Linked DNA regions of Homo sapiens: all the other regions are linked to region 1. The links come from fine-mapping of genetic effects on gene expression. A gene starts in region 1. Each other region holds a variant in brackets. All regions are shown on one strand. Distances are between the middles of the regions.

Evidence for each region. PIP is the estimated chance that this variant, and not a neighbour inherited with it, causes the effect.
Region 2: its variant is the best candidate, but not a certain one, in a credible set for the expression of GPR107 in skeletal muscle (GTEx, PIP 0.74).
Region 3: its variant is the best candidate, but not a certain one, in a credible set for the expression of GPR107 in whole blood (INTERVAL, PIP 0.61).

What each region holds. Positions count from the first base shown.
Region 1 is chr9:130,050,485-130,056,931 of GRCh38, forward strand. It overlaps GPR107 (G protein-coupled receptor 107), which reads left to right and starts at 3,422. Exons shown (of 18, transcript NM_020960.5): 1 at 3,422-3,589. The coding sequence starts at 3,449. It also overlaps a transcript of FNBP1 not described here. RefSeq lists a silencer at 3,410-3,719.
Region 2 is chr9:130,071,013-130,077,459 of GRCh38, forward strand. It overlaps GPR107 (G protein-coupled receptor 107), which reads left to right. Exons shown (of 18, transcript NM_020960.5): 2 at 4,624-4,737; 3 at 5,400-5,450; 4 at 6,287-6,366. Among named protein-coding and RNA genes, the nearest start is that of GPR107, 20 kb to the left of the region's middle. The variant G/A (reference allele first, on the strand shown) is at 3,584.
Region 3 is chr9:130,080,597-130,087,043 of GRCh38, forward strand. It overlaps GPR107 (G protein-coupled receptor 107), which reads left to right. Exons shown (of 18, transcript NM_020960.5): 6 at 2,969-3,006; 7 at 5,824-5,880. Among named protein-coding and RNA genes, the nearest start is that of GPR107, 30 kb to the left of the region's middle. The variant TAA/T (reference allele first, on the strand shown) is at 3,809.

The DNA of each region.
Region 1 (6,447 bases):
GAAATGCATGAAAACTTTAGCTGCAATCCTGGAAGAAATGGTGTTTCAAGCCAAAGAATGAAAAGTAGCATTTGACTTCTGAATGTATTGCTAGGCCCCAATTTGACCACTAGTTTCCTATACTGTCTTAACAGAGGCTTTTGGTTTGCAATATCAATCAACTCTTTTTTTTTTTTTATTTGACAGGGTCTTGCTCTGTCACCCAAGCTGGATAAAAGTGTCATGGCTTACTCCAGTGTTGACTCCTGGGCTCAAGCAATCCTACCACCTCTCTGCCTCCTGAGTAGCTGGGACTACAGGTGCGTGTCACCATGCCCGCTAATTTTTGTGTTTTTTTTTTGTTTTTTTGTTTTTGTTTTTGAGACAGAGTCTTGCTCTGTCGCACAGGCTGGAGTGAATTGGTGCAATCATGCTCGCTAATTTTTTTTTTTTTTGAGACAGAATCTCGCTCTGTCACACAGGCTGGAGTGCAATGGTACAATCTGGGCTCACTGTAACCTCCGCTTCCCAAGTTCAAGCGATTCTCCTGTCTCAGCCTCCTGAGTAGCTGGGATTACAGGCATGCGCCACCATGCCTGGCTAATTTTTGTATTTTTAGTAGAGATGGGGTTTTGCCATGTTAGCTAGGCTGGTCTCAGACTCCTGGCCTCAGGTGATCCACTGACCTCAGCCTCCCAAAGTGCTGAGATTACAGGCCTGAGCCACCGCCCCTGGCCTAATTTTTGTATTTTTTGTAGAGAAGGTGTTTCACCATGTTGCCCAGGCTGGTGGCAAACTCCTGGGCTCAAGTTATCCACCAGCCTTGGCCTCCCAAAGTGCTGGGATTACAGGCATGAGACACCAGCCAGGCCTATCAAGTCTTTTGATAAGAAAAACAAATGGCAATTATACTTTCTTAAACTGGAGACTATTAACACATTAATTACTTAAAAGAGTTCTGAAAATGTCCAAACCGATATCAAATAATTATTTAATAATAATAGCACTAGATTCAACACTACACATTCTAGTAGCAACCTTAAGCTGATCCTGAAAAGTTAGAGAAAATAGTCCAGGCAGGGTGGCTTACGCCTGTAATCCAGCAATTTGGTAAGCCGAGGTGAGCAGATCACTTGAGGCCAGGAGTTCAAGACCAGCCTGGCCAACATGGTGAAACCCCATCTCTAGCAAAAATACAAAAATTAGCTGAGCATACTGGCGCACACCTGTGGTCCCAGCTAGGGAGGCTGAGGCATGAGAATCCCTTGAACCTGGGAGGTGGAGACTACAGTGAACAGATGTCACACCACTGCACTCAGTCCTGGGCAACAGTGTCTCTGTCTCAAAAAAAAAAGGAGAGAAAATAGAAAAATAAAATGTACTTGACTAAGAGAGTAAGGCTAAAAGCCAAGCTTAGGAGATCAGTCTTTCCAGCCCCTGCAGGCTTTTTCAGTCAATACCTTAAAGTGTAATGTCCCTTTGAAAATGTTGCCAGGAGAAGCAGGCATAACTTGTTCTGTTACTCAGCCTGTTTGTTTCCAGTTACAGCATCATGATTATGCAAATAATCTTTTCTTGAAACTATGAAATCACATGGCTAAATGTAATTGTCAAGGCAGCAGTTTTCTAGAATTTAAGAAGTAACTGTAGAGAAAATGCTCAACAATGTCTTTGTAGTCAGTTTTCCCTCATTCTTATTCCTCTCAATTCCAAAATAATGACTGGCACAATACAGCTTTCAAATATGTGAAAGAAGAAGATATCCTCTTAAACCCCTGGACAGACAGCACTGGTATGACCCTATGTAGGTCACATGATAATACCCAAGTATAGAGAAGCAAGGAATGCTATGAACCCAGTTTTAAGCCCTTATAAAACTGTTGTCCAGAAACTAAGACAAAAGTCTCCTATTTAAAACTATTTTAATGTTTCATCACTATTGTATTATAAAATGGGATTAAGATTCTTACCTGATTTTTTTTTTATTGAGACAGAGTCTCACTCTGTCACCCAGGCTGGAGTGCAGTGGCATGATCTTGGCTTACTGAAACCTCTGCCTCCCAGGTTCAAGTGCTTCTCCTGCCTCAGCCTCCCCAGTAGCTGGGACTACAGGCGCGCGGCCGTGATGCCCCGCTAATTTTTGTATTTTTAGTAGAGACGAGGTTTTGCCATGTTGCCCAGGCTGGTCCCGAACAACTGACTTTCAAGTGATCCGCCCGCCTCGGCGTTCCAAAGTGCTGGGATTCAGGCGCGAATCACCACCCTGCCAGGCCTCATTTCGTTTTTAGTACAGTATTATATTCAAATTTAAAACCAGAGATTTTCAAAGATGCCACTTAACTTTAAAAGATAAAAAGTACTCCAAAGCAGGTTGGGCGCAGTGACTCACGCCTGTAATCCCAGCACTTTGGGAGGCCGAGGCGGGAGGATAACTTGAGGTCAGGAGTTCGAGACCAGCCTGGCCAACATGGGAGAAACCCCGTGTCTACTAAAAATACAAAAATTAGCCGGGCGTGGTGGCGCAGGCCTGTAATTCTAGTTACTCCAGAGGCTGAGGCAGGAGAATCGCTTGAACCCAGAAGGCGGAGGTTGCAGTGAGCTGAGATCGTGCCATTGCACTCCAGCCTGGGTGACAAGAGCTAGACTCCGTCTCAAAAAAAAGAAGTTCCTATAATTTCTGAAAGAAGCAAAGAAAGTTTCCATACAGAATTAAGAGAAAAATGTTAAGACCCAGACTTGGGGTTGGATGAAATAGCATGAGGCAACAGAACACAGGAGTTAAGAGCTTCCGTGTGATTCCCAGCTCAACCTGGAGCAAATGACTTATTTCTCAGAGCCTCAGTTTGCTTACCTGTAAAGTAGGAATAATGATAATACGTACCTCCTAGCTCATCAAATTGTTCCAAAAATTAAATACAACAAAAGGCCTAACAAATTGCCTCATAAGGGCTCAATCAATCGTATTATTGCAACCATTTCGCTTGTATTTGAGTGTGAAGCGCCTAGAAAACCACAGGACCCCTACGGCGAGCCGGGAATTTTTAGATATTTTCCTCCGAGTCAACGCTCAGTGAAATCAGTTCAATCAGTGGCCCGACACCGTGCGGCTGACACAGCTTATCCCCCGACCCTGAGATCAGGGGTCCCCGGAGCCCAAGGTCGCTTCCAAAGCTCAGCGAGGCGGAGGTGCGGCCCGGGCTGGTCTGGTTCGGCCACCGTTGTTATGGCAACCGCCAATAGGTTGGCTTCATCTCTAACTGAAAGTCTGCACAGGAGCGGCCGATCGAAGGGCCCCGAGGTGGGCAGCACAGGCTCCTCGACGACTTCCTAGGTCGCAATCTCCAGGAAAACGACCACAGGGTCAGCGGAGCTAGCCGCCGAGCCCCGCTCCCCGGGCCCTTCCGGCGGCTGCGCCCTTTCACCCCGGACGTGGGCGGGAGAGGAAGCGGCTGGTGATGCTGGAACAAACATGGCCGCTCTGGCGCCCGTCGGCTCCCCCGCCTCCCGCGGTCCTAGGCTGGCCGCGGGCCTCCGGCTGCTCCCAATGCTGGGTTTGCTGCAGTTGCTGGCCGAGCCTGGCCTGGGCCGCGTCCATCACCTGGCACTCAAGGTAAAGCTTGGCAAGGCCGGGCCGGGGGGCGGAGGCCGAGGCCACTCCCCGGGTTTTAGGGCAACTTTGGCCCATTGGGGACCTCTGAGCCACTGGACCACCTCTTTGCCCCTGGCTGCGGCCTTTCACTGACAGGTGGCGGGGTCTGTGGGGAAGGCGGGTCTGGGCGGCGCTGGGGTCTTCGGGCTGACCGGCACGGGGCGGGAAGACTCGAGCTGAGGGAGGGGAAGGGGCTGAACTGTGGCGTTGCCCCCACGGACTCGGGAGGCTGCTCTTAAATCCCTGCTGGCTTCCCTGAATTCCTCACTCAGGGCAGCCCGATCGCCTTTCTTCTTTCTCCCCTCCAGCTTTTATGCTGGCTTTCCTTGTCCGCGGTCTCCGCTCTTCTGTGCCCTTGTACTGTACCGGCGGTTTGAAGGTACTTGGAACCTTAGCCTCAGTTTCCCATTTCGGTTTAGGGCGCTCTCTGGAGCGAGACTCTAGAGAAGGAATTTCAAATCTTGCTTAAAACACGTGACTGAGAATGTAAAGCCAGCATTAAGGTGTGTCTCTAATCAAAGGGCCTGCTTTTTCTTCCTCTATCCAGCCATTGTCTAGGGAAGAGAGATTTTTGATAAACCTAGAATGATACTCTGGATCTTGCTTTGTAACTAGCAGAGAAAAGACCTCTAAGGCTGAAACGCACCCTAAGGTGGTTCAGCAGTTTACTATATCTGGGAAATTGTCCAGGTGCTGTGGCTCATGCCTGTAATCCCAACACTGGGAGGCCTATGCAGGAGGATTGTTTGAGCCCAGGAGTTCGAGACCAGCCTAGTCAACGTGCTAAGGACCCCCTCCCCAAACCTGTCTCTACAAAAAATTAAAAATTAACCAGGTGTGGTGGCAAACGCCTGCAGCTTCTGGGGAGGCTGAGGCTGGAGGATCACTTGAGCCTAGGAGGTTGAGACTGCAGTGAGCCGTGATTACTCATTGCATTCCAGCCTGAGGAACAGAGCAAGACCCTTTCTCAAAACATATAAACAAAATTAGAGACATAGAAAAGTAAATTGTTATGACCCAAACTCTTGTACATTATTTTCATACCATACAGTCTTCTAAGAAGTGGAACTGTAGGCGGGGCGCGGTGGCTCACGCCTGTAATCCTAGCACTTTGGGAGGCCGAGGCAGGCAGATCACGAGGTGAGGAGATCGAGACCATCCTGGCTAGCACGGTGAAACCCTATCTCTACTAAAAATAAAAAAAAAATTAGCCAGGCGTGGTGGCAGGCGCCTGCAGTCCCAGCTACTCGGGAGGCTAAGGCAGGAGAATGGCGTGAACCTGGGAGGCGCTTGTAGTCCCAGCTACTCGGGAGACTGAGGCAGGAGAATGGCGTGAACCCGGGAGGCGGAGCTTGCAGTGAGCCAAGATCCCGCCACTGCACTCCAGCCTGGGCAACAGCGCGAGACTCCGTCTCAAAAAAAAAAAAAAAAAGAAGTGGAACTGTAGAAAGTTTGTCTTGTAAAAACACATTGTTTTAGCAAACTATGAAGCATTGTATTTTGTTAATGTAGAATTTAAAGAATACAGAATGAAATTAAAAGCCTGGCTTGACTGGGCACGGTGGCTCACACCTATAATCCTAGCACTTTGGGAGGCCGAGGTGGGCGGATCACCTGAGGTCAGGAGTTCGAGACCAGCCTGGCCAACATGGCAAAACCCCTCTCTACTAAAAATACAAATATTAGACGGGCATGGTGGCACATGCCTGTAGTCCCAGCTACTTGGGAGGCTGAGACAGGATAATTGCTTGAACCCGGGAGGCTGAGATTGCAGTGAGCAGAGATCATTGTGCCACTGCACTCCAGTCGGGGCGAAAGAACTATACTCTGTCTCAAATAAATAAATAAATAAATAAATAAATGCAAGCCTGACTGGATCCATACAACCTTACTTTTTGGTAACAACTTTTGTTGTTTGTAGGTAAAAATTATCCTGATTAAAATGGTTCAATCACAGGGGTGGGGGTGGGGCAAGTGAATTTTGACTCTTTGAGAATCTGTTGAGAGCTATAGAACCTCTCTCCAGAAAAGTGCATGTAGAAATGTAGACAAAACTTGGCCGGGCACGGTGGCTCACGCCTGTAATCCCAGCACTTTCAGAGGCTGAGGTGGGTGGATCACTTGAGGTCAGGAGTTTGAGACCAGCCTGGCCAACATTGTGAAATCACATCTCTACTAAAAATACAAAAATTAGCCAGGCGTGGTGGCAGGTACCTGTAATCCCAGCTACTCGGGGCTGAGGCAGGAGAATCGCTTGGACCCAGGAGTAGGAAGTTGCAGTGAGCCAAGATTGAGCCCCTGTACTCCAGCCTGGGCGACAGAGCAAGACTCCGTCTCAAAATAAATAAATAAATAAAATAAAATAAACATCCGAAGTCAGGGGTGTCCAATCTTTTGGCTTCCCAGGGCCACATTGGAAGATGAAAAGTTGTTTTGGGTCACACCTAAAATAGACTAACAGTAACCATAGCTGATAAGCTTTAAAAAATTGCAAAAAAATCTCATAATGTTTTAAGAAAGTTCACAAATTTGGCTGGGCGCAGTGGCTCACGCCTGTAATCCCAGCACTTTGGGAGGCCGAGATGGGCGGATCACAGGGTCAGGAGATTGAGACCATCCTGGCTAACAAGGTGAAACCCCGTCTCTACTAAAAATACAAAAAATTAGCCAGGCGTGGTGGCAGGTGCCGGTGGTCTCAGCTACTCGGGAGGCTGAGGCAGGAGAATGGCATGAACCCGGGAGTCGGAGCTTGCAGTGAGCCAAGATCACGCCATTGCATTCCAGCCTGGGTGACAGAGCGAGACTCCTTCTCAAAAAAA
Region 2 (6,447 bases), 21 kb after region 1:
CCAGTCCTAACTTTTTTTTTTTCTTTTTTTTTTTTTTTTTTGAGACAGAGTCACACTCTGTGGCGCAGGCTGGAGTGCAGTGATGCAGTCCCAGCCCACTGCAGCCTCGACATCCTGGGCTAAAGCAATCGTCCCACTTCAGCCTCCTGAATAGCTAGGATGCCACCACAACTGGCTAATTTTTTTTTTTTTTTTTGCTAGAGATGGGGTTTCTCTGTTGCCTAGGGTGGTTTCAAACTCCTGGGCTCAAGCAGTCTGCCTGCCTCAGTCTCCCAAAATGTTGGGATTATAGGCGAGAGCCACCTCGCCTGGCCCCTCACCCTTTTTTTTTCTATCAAATGTTACTGAATATAGCTTTTTACATTTAATGTTGTATCATGATTACTTTCCCTTGTTAGGAAATGATAATGTGAAAATGGCTCTCATATCAGATCTAGTTTGAAGCCCCAGCTTTATTAGCTATAGTCTGCTTGGCCTCAGGTAGTCATTTCTCCTCTGAACTGGTGTCTTCATCGCTACCGTGGGGCTGCTTCTCTTAACCACACTGAGCTGAGCGAGGGTCAGAAATCATAGGTAAAGCCCTTGGCACATAACCTAGTTCTTGGAAGACTCTGAAAACTGGGAGTTGTGATGCTGTTGTTATTATCATTATTATTATTATTACTATTTTTGTTTTGTTTTGTTTTTTGCGATAAAGTCTTGCTCTTGTCCCCCAGGCTGGAGTGCAATGGTGCAATCTCCGCTTACTGCAACCTCTGCCTCCCAGGTTCAGGCGATTCTCCTGCCTCAGCCTCCCAAGTAGCTGGGATTAACAGATGCCTGCCAGCAAGCCTGGCTTATTTTTGTACTTTTAGTAGAGACGGGGTTTCACCATGTTGGCCAGGCTGGTCTCAAACTCCTGACCTCAGGTGATCCGTCCGCCGCGGCCTCCCAAAGTGCTGGGATTACAGGCGTAATCCAGCCTTATTATTATTATTTTTGAGACAGTCTTGCTCTGTTTCCCAGACTGGAGTGCAGTGGTACAACCCGGCTCCCTGCAGCCTCTGCCTCCTCGGTTCAAGCACTTCTGCCTCAGCCTACCAAGTAGCTGGGATTACAGGCACACACCACCACACCTGGCTAATTTTTGTATTTAGTAGATATGGGGTTTCACCATGTTGGCCAGGCTGATCTTGAACTCTTTCTATTTATTTATTTTTTTATTTATTTAATTTTTTTTTTTTTTTGAGATGGAGTCTCGCTGTCGCCCAGGCTGGAGTGCAGTGGCGTGATCTCGGCTCACTGCAGGCTCCGCCCCCTGGGGTTCACGCCATTCTCCTGCCTCAGCCTCCCGAGTAGCTGGGACTACAGGCGCGTGCCACCTCGCCCAGCTAATTTTTTGTGTTTTTAGTACAGATGAGGTTTCACCGTGTTAGCCAGGATGGTCTCAATCTCCTGACCTTGTGATCTGCCTGCCTCGGCCTCCCAAAGTGCCGGGATTACAGGTGTGAGCCACCGCGCCCGGCCTTGATCTCGAACTCTTGACCTCAGGTGATCTGCCTGCTTTGGCCTCCCAAAGTGCTGGGATTACTGCCATGAGCCATCGTGCCCAGCCGATGCTGTTTTTATTGTTTAAAATAGTCTTCAAAAACCTGTTTTTCATGGCATTGTATCATCAAATGAAATGATGATGCAAAGGTTTAAAAAAAAGGAATGTACTATTTATGTTGGGGGGGGAACTGCTATCAGGTTGCAATCGAAACATTTTCTGGAAAAAAAAAACAAAACAACAAGAAAACCTGTATTGTGGTGGCCTAAGTATAAATGAAAGCCTAGCAGGTTTCCATTCTGCTGCAAAGCAGCTTCATGCTGGACCAATTAGAAAAGACATACTTTTAAAATTAAAACTTTATTGAAATGTAATATACATGGCTAAAAATTACTCATTATAAGCAAACAACTCAGCGCATTTCCAGAACGTAGACACACTCATGCAGCCCGCAGGAAATGAGGCAGAACCATTACCAAGCCCCTCCAGAAGCACCCTAAGCCTCACCTTCCCTCAAGTCCCAGGAAAGCCCCTTTCTCCTGAGAGTGGTCACTGTCTTCACCTCCGTCACCACAGATGATTTCCCCCTGCATTCCAGTTTGTTTTACATGAATATGGCTGTGATTCATATACGTTGTTTTATGTGGCAGAAATTGTGTGTTCATTTTCCCTCATCCTCTCCCTCTGCAGTCCTGCTCCACTGAGGATTCTGCCAGAGAATGAAGCCCTAATGTGCTAAGGCATCCATTTATGTAGTTGAGTTAATGTCTCCTGTGCCTCTAGGAGGGTAGTCATCATATACTGTCCTTGAGAGAATTGAGAAAATAGATACTGAAGACATTTTCCGTGGGTTTAATTCTCTCAGAGAATTCCAAGAAAGGCTGGGAGCCTTAGCTTTTCTGGCTTTTACCATTGACCCACTCTTGTAGATTCCAGGAGATGACCTCTGTTATCTTATCTGGCTTTTCTAATTGTTCTCTGTGAGAATGTTGGTTTGCTGCAAGCCACTCCAGCCCACCAGGAAGTGGAAATCCAGCAAACATGTTTTCACCACATAGCCAAGCTCCTAAGAAAATAAGGGAAATTCCCAGGGGCCCAAAAAAGGGAAGAAGGAGCTGAAACTCCATTGGGGAAAGAACAGGGAAGCCAGGGCTTCCCTGTGACGTTGCAGAAACTTGAAGCCCAGAGGCCTGGGTTTTTTGTTTGTTTTGTTTGTTTGTTGTTGTTGTTTTTGAGACAGAGTCTCACTGTGTCACCCAGGCTGGAGTGCCATGGCACGATCTCGGCTCACTGCAACCTCTGCTTCCCGGGTTCAAGTGATTCTCCTGCCTCAGCCTCCCAAGTAGCTGGGATTACAGGCATGTGCCACAATGCCCGGCTAATTTTTTTGTATTTTTAGTAGAGACAGGGTTTCCCATTTTGGCCAGGCTGGTCTCGAACTCCTGACCCCAAGTGATCCTCCTGCCTCGGCCTCCCAAAGTGCTGGGATTACAGGCGTGAGCCACCACGCCCGGCCGAGTCCTGGGTTTTTAACAGATGTTGAGGGGAAACAGGGACCATAGCCTTAGGCCTGAGCAGGGAGGTGAGTTGGAACTGTGTCCCTCTGCTTCTCAGCCCATAATCTAGGGCTGTCAAAAAGCTATGAATGCAAGAGTGGGCAGGAAAGAAAATCCTGCTAGTGATAGTGCAGTGTGGTGTAGTTCTGTGGGGGAGAGGAGGGGATTTAGTTTATGCTGTTTCTGCCAAAGATCTGCTCCACAGCCTGTCCTCACAGGCCTTTGGTGTTTGCCATTAGACTACCCGGGATGTCCAGGAAACCCCAAATCTAGAAATAAAAAGTTACCCTTCACACCAAGAATCAAATTGCAGACTTACGGAAGGTGTTGCAATTTAGCCAAATCTCAATATAAAAATTGTTACACAACATAAAGTGTGTTTGTGGAAGCCCAGTTTTAGAAGTGTTCACTGACACCATTGCTCTGTTGGCCCTGCAGTGTACTGACTTAGTTGAGATTGGAGTCAGGATGTTGAGACAGCATCAAGCAGGTGGGGTAG[G/A]CGTCTGCCCATGTGATTCAGTCTCACCAAACCTTAGGATTATCTTGTATCCAAAAGACTCTGTCTCCATGTCGCTAATTCCTATTCCTGGGATTCCTCTTGCATAAGGCTTTGTTCCCTGAAAACCCATCATCTACTGTATCACTTTTAGGTGAAAATTCACCTTTTTAAATAATTGACTTATAGCTTAGCTTCATTCTTTATCCTGCCAATGGGAGGAGCCAGGTACACACAAATTGATAAGAGGATTTATATAAATGAGTGTATTCTTGGAACAGCTTCAGCCGCTCCTTTTCTTCCTCCCCACCCCCCAGCATGTTTTGAGTGCCTACTAGATGCCAGGCATTGTACTATCAGGAAGGATGTGGGGATGACGATAACATGGTTCCTCCTGCCCTGGAATTCACATTTCAGCCAACCACTGAGTTTGCCCCTAGAACCCATACCAATGCATTGGAGTGAATTTGAATCCATTGAATACTTCCTTCTGCAGAAACTGTTGATATCTTTTGGATTTCCGATGAGTTGTCTTCAGCTTTTGGAGAAAGACATGTTACCACAGCTGTGTATGTTACTGAGCATATGGAAACATTGGCTGGCTAGCAAGAAATAAGATATCATAGTTTTTCTCTTCTTTTCTTTTACCTTTTTTTTTTTTTTTTTTTTTGAGACAGAGTCTTGCTCCGTCACCCAAGCTAGAGTGCAGTGGCATGATCTCGGCTCACTGCAACCTCCACCTCCCAGGTTCAAGCAATTCTGCTGGCTCAGCTTCCCAAGTAGCTGGGATTACAGGTGCCCGCCACCATGCCCGGCTAACTTTTTGTATTTTTAGTAGAGACAGGGTTTCGCCATGTTGGCCAGTGTGGTCTCAAACTCCTGACCTCAGGTGATCCACCCGCCTCAGTCTCCCAAAGTGGTGGGATTACAGGCTTGAGCCACCGTGCCCAGCCTGATATCATACTTTTTAAAGCAAATGAATAGGTTAAATAATCAAAAGCACTTTTCCATATGACTAATTCCACCACTACAAATCTCTTTAGGATGATGTGAGGCATAAAGTTCATCTGAACACCTTTGGCTTCTTCAAGGATGGGTACATGGTGGTGAATGTCAGTAGCCTCTCACTGAATGAGCCTGAAGACAAGGATGTGACTGTAAGTACCTTTTAATGAGATCCAGGGGTTTACTCTTTTTTTTTTTTTTTTGAGATGGAGTCTTGCTCTGTCACCCAGGCTGGAGTGCGGTGGCGCAATCTCAGCTCACTGCAACCTCCACCTCCCGGGTTCAAGCAGTTCTCTGCCTCAGCCTCCCGAGTAGCTGGGATTACAGGCACCCACCACCATGACCGTCTAATTTTTGTATTTTTAGTAGAGACGGGGTTTCACCAACTTGGCCAGGCTGGTCTTGAATTCCTGACCTCGTGATCCACCCGCCTTGGCCTCCCAAAGTGCTGGGATTACAGGTGTGAGCCACTGCGCCCAGCCCAGGGGTTTACTCTTTTAGCTTAGGTGAGAGTCACCTTCCAACCCCAATGCTTAAATATAAAATACCAGAATATGGAGATAATTAAGCATGTGAGTAGCAAATTATATATCAGGCATCAAATAATTTCACTTTTAACACTTAAAATGTAATTCTGTAATAATTCTAGTAATTAGTGACTTTGCTTGAGTGATTTTACTTTGCCTTCTTACAAAATGAATGCTAAGAAAACAGAGGAGACCACGTTAGAAGTACCACTTTTTCTGCTTTTTGAGTAAGAAAAGTATGGACAATTGTGTAGATATTTACTTCTACTGTTTTTACTCCCCATTAGATTGGATTTAGCCTAGACCGTACAAAGAATGATGGCTTTTCTTCTTACCTGGTGAGTATTAAATGTGTGACCTGATTCATCTCTTCACCTGAGCCCAGGCCATTGAACGGGAACACCCTACTTCTTGCAGTTCCATTTTCATTTTTTTTTTGGAGTACGGTGGCACAATCATAGCTCACTGCAACCTTGACCTCCCAGGCTTAAGCGATCCTCCCGCCTCAGTCCCCTGAGTAGCTGGGACTACCAGCGTGTGCCACCACGCCTGCCTAATTTTTGTATTTTTAGTAGAGACAGGGTTTCACATTTTGTTGGCCATGTCTCAAACTCCTGGACTCAAGGGATCCACCCACTGTGGCCTCCCAGAGTGCTAGGACTGCAGGCGTGAGCACCACGCCTGGCCACAGCGCCATTTCTTGAGGTAGTGGCTGCTTTGACTTCCAAGCATTTTTGAGAACCCACAGTTGGTTTACTTTTGTTTTTTGTTTTTTTTTTTGAGACAGAGTCTCACTCTTGTTGCCGAGGCTGGAGTGCAATGGTGTGATCTTGGCTCACTGCAACCTCCGCCTCCCTCGTTCAAGTGATTCTTCTGCCTCATCCTCCTGAGTAGCTGGGACTGCAGGTGCCCGCCACCACACCTGGCTAATTTTTGTATTTTTAGTAGAGACGTGGTTTCACCATGTTGGCCAGGATGGTCTCGATCTCCTGACCTCACGATCCACCCACCTCGGCCTCCCAAAGTGCTGGGATTACAGGCGTGAGCCACCACGCCCACCGGTTTACTATTTTGAATGGAGTTTGAGCCACGTATTTGCTATGTTCCTGAAAACTCTGTTCTTGTTCTAGTGTGAATGAATAAGATGATGTACAATTGGCTCTTCCTTTCTCAGGATGAAGATGTGAATTACTGTATTTTAAAGAAACAGTCTGTCTCTGTCACCCTTTTAATCCTAGACATCTCCAGAAGTGAGTAAGTAATTCTAAAGTTCCTTCAGTTCAGTCCTAGAGTAGAGTCGGGGAGAATTTAGTAGTATGCTAACATTCCTTGGGT
Region 3 (6,447 bases), 30 kb after region 1:
TTCTCCTGCCTCAGCCTCCCAAGTAGCTGGGACTACAGGCGCCCGCCACCATGCCCGGCTAATTTTTTGTATTTTTAGTAGAGACAGGGTTTCACGGTGTTAGCTAGGATGGTCTCGATCTCCCGACCTCGTGATCCGCCCGCCTCGGCCTCCCAAAGTGCTGGGATTACAGGCGTGAGCCACTGCGCCCGGCCCTGTTTATTTATATTTACTCTTATTACTGAGACTGTACTTTTTCTCCATGTGTTGATTAACCAATTTATATTCACCATTTTTTATTAACTGTCAGGTTCATCTGATGATTCATGTGAGTTCTTTAAAGATAATTTATGGCCAGGTGCAGTGGCTCACGCCTATAATCCCAGCACTTTGGGAGGCCAAAGTGGGAGGATCACTTGAGTCTAGGAGCTTGTACCAGCCTGAGCAACATAGCGAGGCCCTGTCTCTGCAAAAATAAAAATAAAAAAATTAGCCATGCGTAGTGGCATGTGCCTGTAGTCACAACTCCTCAAGAGACTGAGGCAGGAGGATTGCTTGAATGTGACTGGTCTAGGCCACATTGAGCCGTGATGCACTGCAGCCTGGATGACAGAACAAGACCCTGTCTCCGAAATAAATACATACATACTTACTGCTTATACAATGTTTTTCTCAAAGGAGGCTGGGCATGGTGGTTCATCCCTGTAATCCCAGCACTTTGAGAGGCCAAGGCGGGCAGATTACTTGAGGTCAGGAGTTCAAGACCAGCCTGGCCAACATGGTGAAACCCCATCTCTACTAAAAATACAAAAATTAGGCCGGGTGTGGTGGCTCACGCCTGTAATCCCAGCACTTTGGGAAGCCGAGGTGGGCAGATCACAAGGTCAAGAGATTGAGACCATCCTGGCCAACATGGTGAAACCCCGTCTCTACTAAAAATACAAAAAATTAGCCGGGCATGGTGGCACGTGCCTGTGATCTCAGCTACTCAGGAGACTGAGGCAGGAGAATTGCTTGGACCAGGGAGATGGAGTTCGCAGTGAGCCAAGATCGCACCACTGCACTCCAGCCTGGCGACAGAGTGAGACTCTGTCTCAAAAAAAAAAAAACAAAAAACAAAAAACACAAAAATTAGCCGGATGTGGTGGCATGCGCCTGTAGTCCCAACTGTTGGGGAGGCTGAGGCAAAAGAATTTCTTGAACCCAGGAGACAGAGGCTGCAGTGAGCCGAGATTGCGCCACTGCACTCCAGCCTGGGTGACAGAGTGAGAGCCTGTCTCAAAACCAACCACCACCACCGAAAAACAACAACAACAACAAAAAAAGAAGAGGTTTAATTGTCTAATTGCCTCACAGTTCTGCAGGCTATACAAAGCATGGCGCCGGAATCTACTCCTGGTGAGGGCCTCAGGAAGCTTCCAATCATGGCAGAAGGCAAGAAGGAGCAGGCAGGTCACATGGCGAGAGCAGGAGCAAGAGAGAGTGGGGAGGTGCCACACTCTTTTAAACAACCAGATCATGCCTGAACTCGGAGCAAGAACTCACTCCTTACCACAAGGAGGGCACCAGCCATTCATGAGGGATATGTCCTCATGACTCAGATACCTCACACTAGCCCTCACATCCAACACTGGGGACTGCCTTTCCACATGAGATTTGGAGGGGACAGACATCTAAACTATGTCGTTCAGTCTGTCCAACTTGACTGCAGTTAAAAGCCACACAGAAAGACTGCATTTGTGCAATGGTGTAGGTTAATGCCTGTGCACCATCTGCTTCTTGTCTGGCTTCTTTGTGCTCATATCACCGTTCTCTGGGAAGAAAATATTCTTTTCTTTCTCTTTATTCTCTTCCTTCCTGCAGGGAGCCTGAAGTCCAGTCTTTCCCAAAAAGAATATCTTTTTTTTTTTTTTTTTTTTTTTTAGACGGAGTCTTGCTCTGTCTCCCAGGCTGGAGTGCAGTGGCGCGATCTCGGCTCACTGCAAGCTCCACCTCCCAGGTTCACGCCATTCTCCTGCCTCAGCCTCCCGAGTAACTGGGACTATAGGCACCTGCCACCACGTGGCTAATTTTTTTGTATTTTTTAGTAGAGACGGGGTTTCACCATGTTAGCCAGGATGGTCTCAATCTCCTGACCTCATGATCCGCCCATCTCAGCCTCCCAAAGTGCTGGGATTATAGGCATGAGCCACCGCACCCAGCCCAAGAATATCTTAAGTGAAAACAAAAGATAGATGCCCACTCTGTTCCATGAAAGAAGCCATTAGCAATCTTCTTGCTGTAGGGAGGAAAGTATCATTATGCTAATATTACTTGCTGTTAACTTTTTCAAGTGTGTAAATGTATCTCATGTTTTTCTTTTTGAGATGGAGTCTCGCTCTGTCACCCAGGCTGGAGTGCAGTGGTATGATCTCAGCTCACTGCAGCCTACACCTTTTGGGTTCAAGGGATTCTCCTGTGTCAGCCTCCCGAGTAGCTGGGATTACAGGCATGCACCACCATGCCCGACTAATTTTTGTATTTTTAGTAGAGATGGGGGTTCGCCAGGTTGGCCAGGCTGGTCTCAAACTCCTGACCTCAGGTGATCCACCTGCCTCAGCCTCCCAAAGTGTTGGGATTGCAGGCATGAGCCACCGCACCTGGCCTTCTTCTTAAAAATTGTGTTTTCAAATGTGATTACTTAGAAAATTAGGAAGTCATTCCATGTGGCCTCTCTGGCAATAACATAAGCTAGAATATCCAGAAATGAATTCTGTTGTTACTATTACCGGTTACTAGATACCATTTATAATATAACAAGGTCTAATTTGCTGCTTCGACAGTACAAGAATTATGTTTTGGGACCTGAGGAAATGGCAGTCCCCAAGATTATTTTGTTTAATTATTTGATATTAGACAAGCTGAAGCCTCATAAAATGATACTGTAATATATATATGTATCTGTAAGTTGAGTCATGCAGCACTCTCTTTTAAATGTTCTTGCTTCTAGATGGTGGAAAGTCTAAAAGAAGTACAGTGGATTCAAAGGTAAGAACTAACCACCCTTTTGTGCTCAGCTTTTCTGGATATGTGTGTACGTGTGTGTGTTATATGCATGTGTGTGTGTGTATTGATATATATACATACATGCATGCACAGACACATACATATACAGTCGTCCCTTGGTGACCACAGGGGATTGGTTACAGGAACCCTAGTGAATATCAAAATCAGTAGATGCTCATGTCTCTTATATAAAATGGCATAGTATTTACACATAACCTACACACATCCTCCTGTGTACTTTAAATCATCTCTGGAGTACTCATGATACCTAATACAACGTAAATGCTTTGTAAATAGTTGTTACACTGTGTTGGATTTTTATTTATGTTATTTATTACTATTACTTTTTCATCTTATTTTAAAAAATATTTTTGGTTGGCAGTTGGTTCAATCTGCAGATGTGGAACCTGCAATACAGAGAGCTAACATATATATATATATATATATATGTACACACATACATACATACACACACACGCATATCTCATCTACAGGGGGCCAGATGTGGTGGTTCATGCCGTAATCCCAGCACTTTGGGAGGTTGAGGTTGGGGGATCACTTGAGATCAGGAGTTCGAGACCAGCCTGGCCAACATAGTGAAACTCTGTCTCTACTAAAAATACAAAAATTAGCTGGGCTTGGTGGTGCATGCTTGTAATCCCAGCTACTTGGGAGGCTGAGGCAGGAGAATCACTTGAACCTGGGAGGCAGAGGCTTCAGTGAGCCAAGATCGCGCTACTGCACTCCAGCCTGGGTGACAGAGTGAGACTATCTCAAAAAAAGT[TAA/T]AAAAAAAAAAAAATCTACAGGGAATTGTCTCCTATTTTGGGGGAGAGCATTGACATACTGAAACAATTTCAAAGGACAATTGATTCCTGGCTGGGCATGGTGGCTTGCGCCTGTAATCCCAGCACTGTGGGAGGCTGAGGTGGGTGGATTAATTGAGCCCAGGAGTTCAAGACCAGCCTGGGCTACATGGCGAAACCTTATCTCTACAAAAAATAGAAAATTAGCGGGCATGGTGGTATGCGCCTGTGGTCGCAGCTGTTCTGGAGGCTGAGGTGGAAGGATCACCTGAGCCTGGGAGGCTAAGGCTACAGTGAGCTATGATTGTGCCACTTCACTCTAGCCTGGGTGACAGAGTGAGACCCTGTCTCAAAAAAAAAAAAAAGGAAAAGAAAATTGATTTCTAAGTTGCACAGCACTTACATGATGTAGGATCAGGTAGTTAGGGAAGGAAGATGCCAAACCATCAGAAAAGCCCTCTGGAAGGAGCTGTCGCCGGGGCTGAGTCTGGAGTTTGTTCAGGGAAGAGAAAGACAAGGGAGGGGAGGAAGAATGCCATACGCAAAGACTGGATGATGACAAATGCTGAGCACTGGCTCGTTTGAAGTAAAAGACACATATTTGGGAGCAGAGAGAGGTCTTAGATAATATAGGGCCAAGCAATAGAGGAATTGATGAGCAGGCTACGGGAAGTCATCCTGAGTTCCTGATTGGGAAAGACTGTTTATTAAAGATCATAATTCTGAAAGTGACGTGAAGGGTAGCCTTGGAGAAGGAGAAAGGGTTGTTAGAAGGACCAGGAAGGACACAGTTGTGAGAATACAGGTTTCGGGTGATGAGGATCTGGACTAGAGCAGAGCCTTGGATGGTAAACGACTGGGAAGCCAGTTAGGGTCATGGGAGGGAAAGAGAGGAGCAGAGGAGTGGGTCGTAGAAATAGCAGAAGTGGAAAAACTGGGAAAGTTTTGGTTGGCGATATCTTGATTTCTCCATGAGGGGGACATCTAAATGGTGATGTTTTGTCTTAACAGCTTTGTTGAAGTATAATTGACCTAAAATAAACTGTAGATATGTAAAGCAGCAATCTGATAACTTTGACTTATCAATCAAGGTAGTGAAATATCCATCACCCCAAAAATTTCTTCTGCCTTTTTGTAAGCCCCCTGTCCCCAAGCAATCACTGATCTGTCACTGGGGTATAGATTAGTTTTATAGAACTTCATATAACTGAATTATGCAGCACTCTTTTCTGTCTTATATTCAGCATAATTACTTTGAGTTCATCCACATTGTTGCATGTATCATTTCTTTTCATTGCTCAGTTTTACTGTATAAATGGCAATATTTTGATTTTTTTTTTTTTTTTTGCCGGGGGGAACGCAGTCTTGCTCTACCACCCAGGCTGGAGTGCAGTGGCACGATCTCAACCTCCACCTCCCAGGTTCAAGCAGTTCTCCTGCCTCAGCCTCCGGAGTAGCTGGGATTATAGACACGCACCACCACGCCTGGCTGATTTTTGTATTTTTAGTAGAGATGGGGTTTCACCTTGTTGGCCAGGCTGGTCTTGAACTCCTGACCTCAAGTGATCTGCCCACCTTGGCCTCCCAATATGTTGGGATTACAGGCGTGAGCCACTGTGCCTGGCCAATATTTTGGTCATTTGATGTCAGGAGTGGAATTCAGGGGATGTAACAGGGCATGGCCTGGGTCAGCACCCTTAGTCTGACTGAAGCTTCAAGGGTAGACAAGCTGTCTAGCCGAAAGATTCAAGGCAGGGGGTGGAGGTAGGGGTTAGTGCAGAGGCAGAAGAGACAGGTGAAGAACAACTACCATTCTCTGTGAAAGCAGATTTCAGCCATCTCGAAAGGATAGTTGGTTTTATTTTCAGAGAGCTTTTTTGAAGGTCAGCAAATTTAGAGTTTAAGAAACATGTTTTGTTTTGTTTAATAAATTACTTTTAATTAGCATGCTTCTATGCCGGTGTCATCCTAAAACATACTATTATGTCTTTTTAGGCCATGGGAGAGAAATCCTTTTCTGTTCATAATAATGGTGGGGCAGTGTCATTTCAGGTATGTATGCTCTTTGTGTAAAGCCTCCTAGAATTTCTCTCTACCATGTAAAAGGGTAATTTTTTTTTAGAGGAATTTTGAATTTAGGAATAACAACTTAGGTATGCCCTGTATCAGTCACTTAAATGCAGTAGCTCTCCTTATAACAAGCCCACAAGGTGGATATTGTTACCCATCTACTTATCAAATCAGAAGTCTCTGAGAGTGAATAACTTTGTGACTATCTAGTGTAGGTGACACGGTACAGTTTCCAACCCAGTCCTGCCTGGCTGTTCCCATGACCCCTTTGCCCCAATCCCATGCTACCTCCCATTCAAAGTGTGCCAGAAGCATAGTACCCCATTCTGAAAGGACCATTGATGATGATTTACGGTGATGTTGTAATTTTAGAGATGATTTCACCTAGACTCAGAGGCTTTGAGTGACCTGCTTAGCTGTCAGAGTTATTAATTGCCCATGAGTGTTTAGGGGCAGCATAATAGCATACGTATGGGAACAAGATACTGGACTGGGCCTCAGAACCCACTTACTAGCTGGGTGTATTGGACACCTCACTTCATTTCTTTT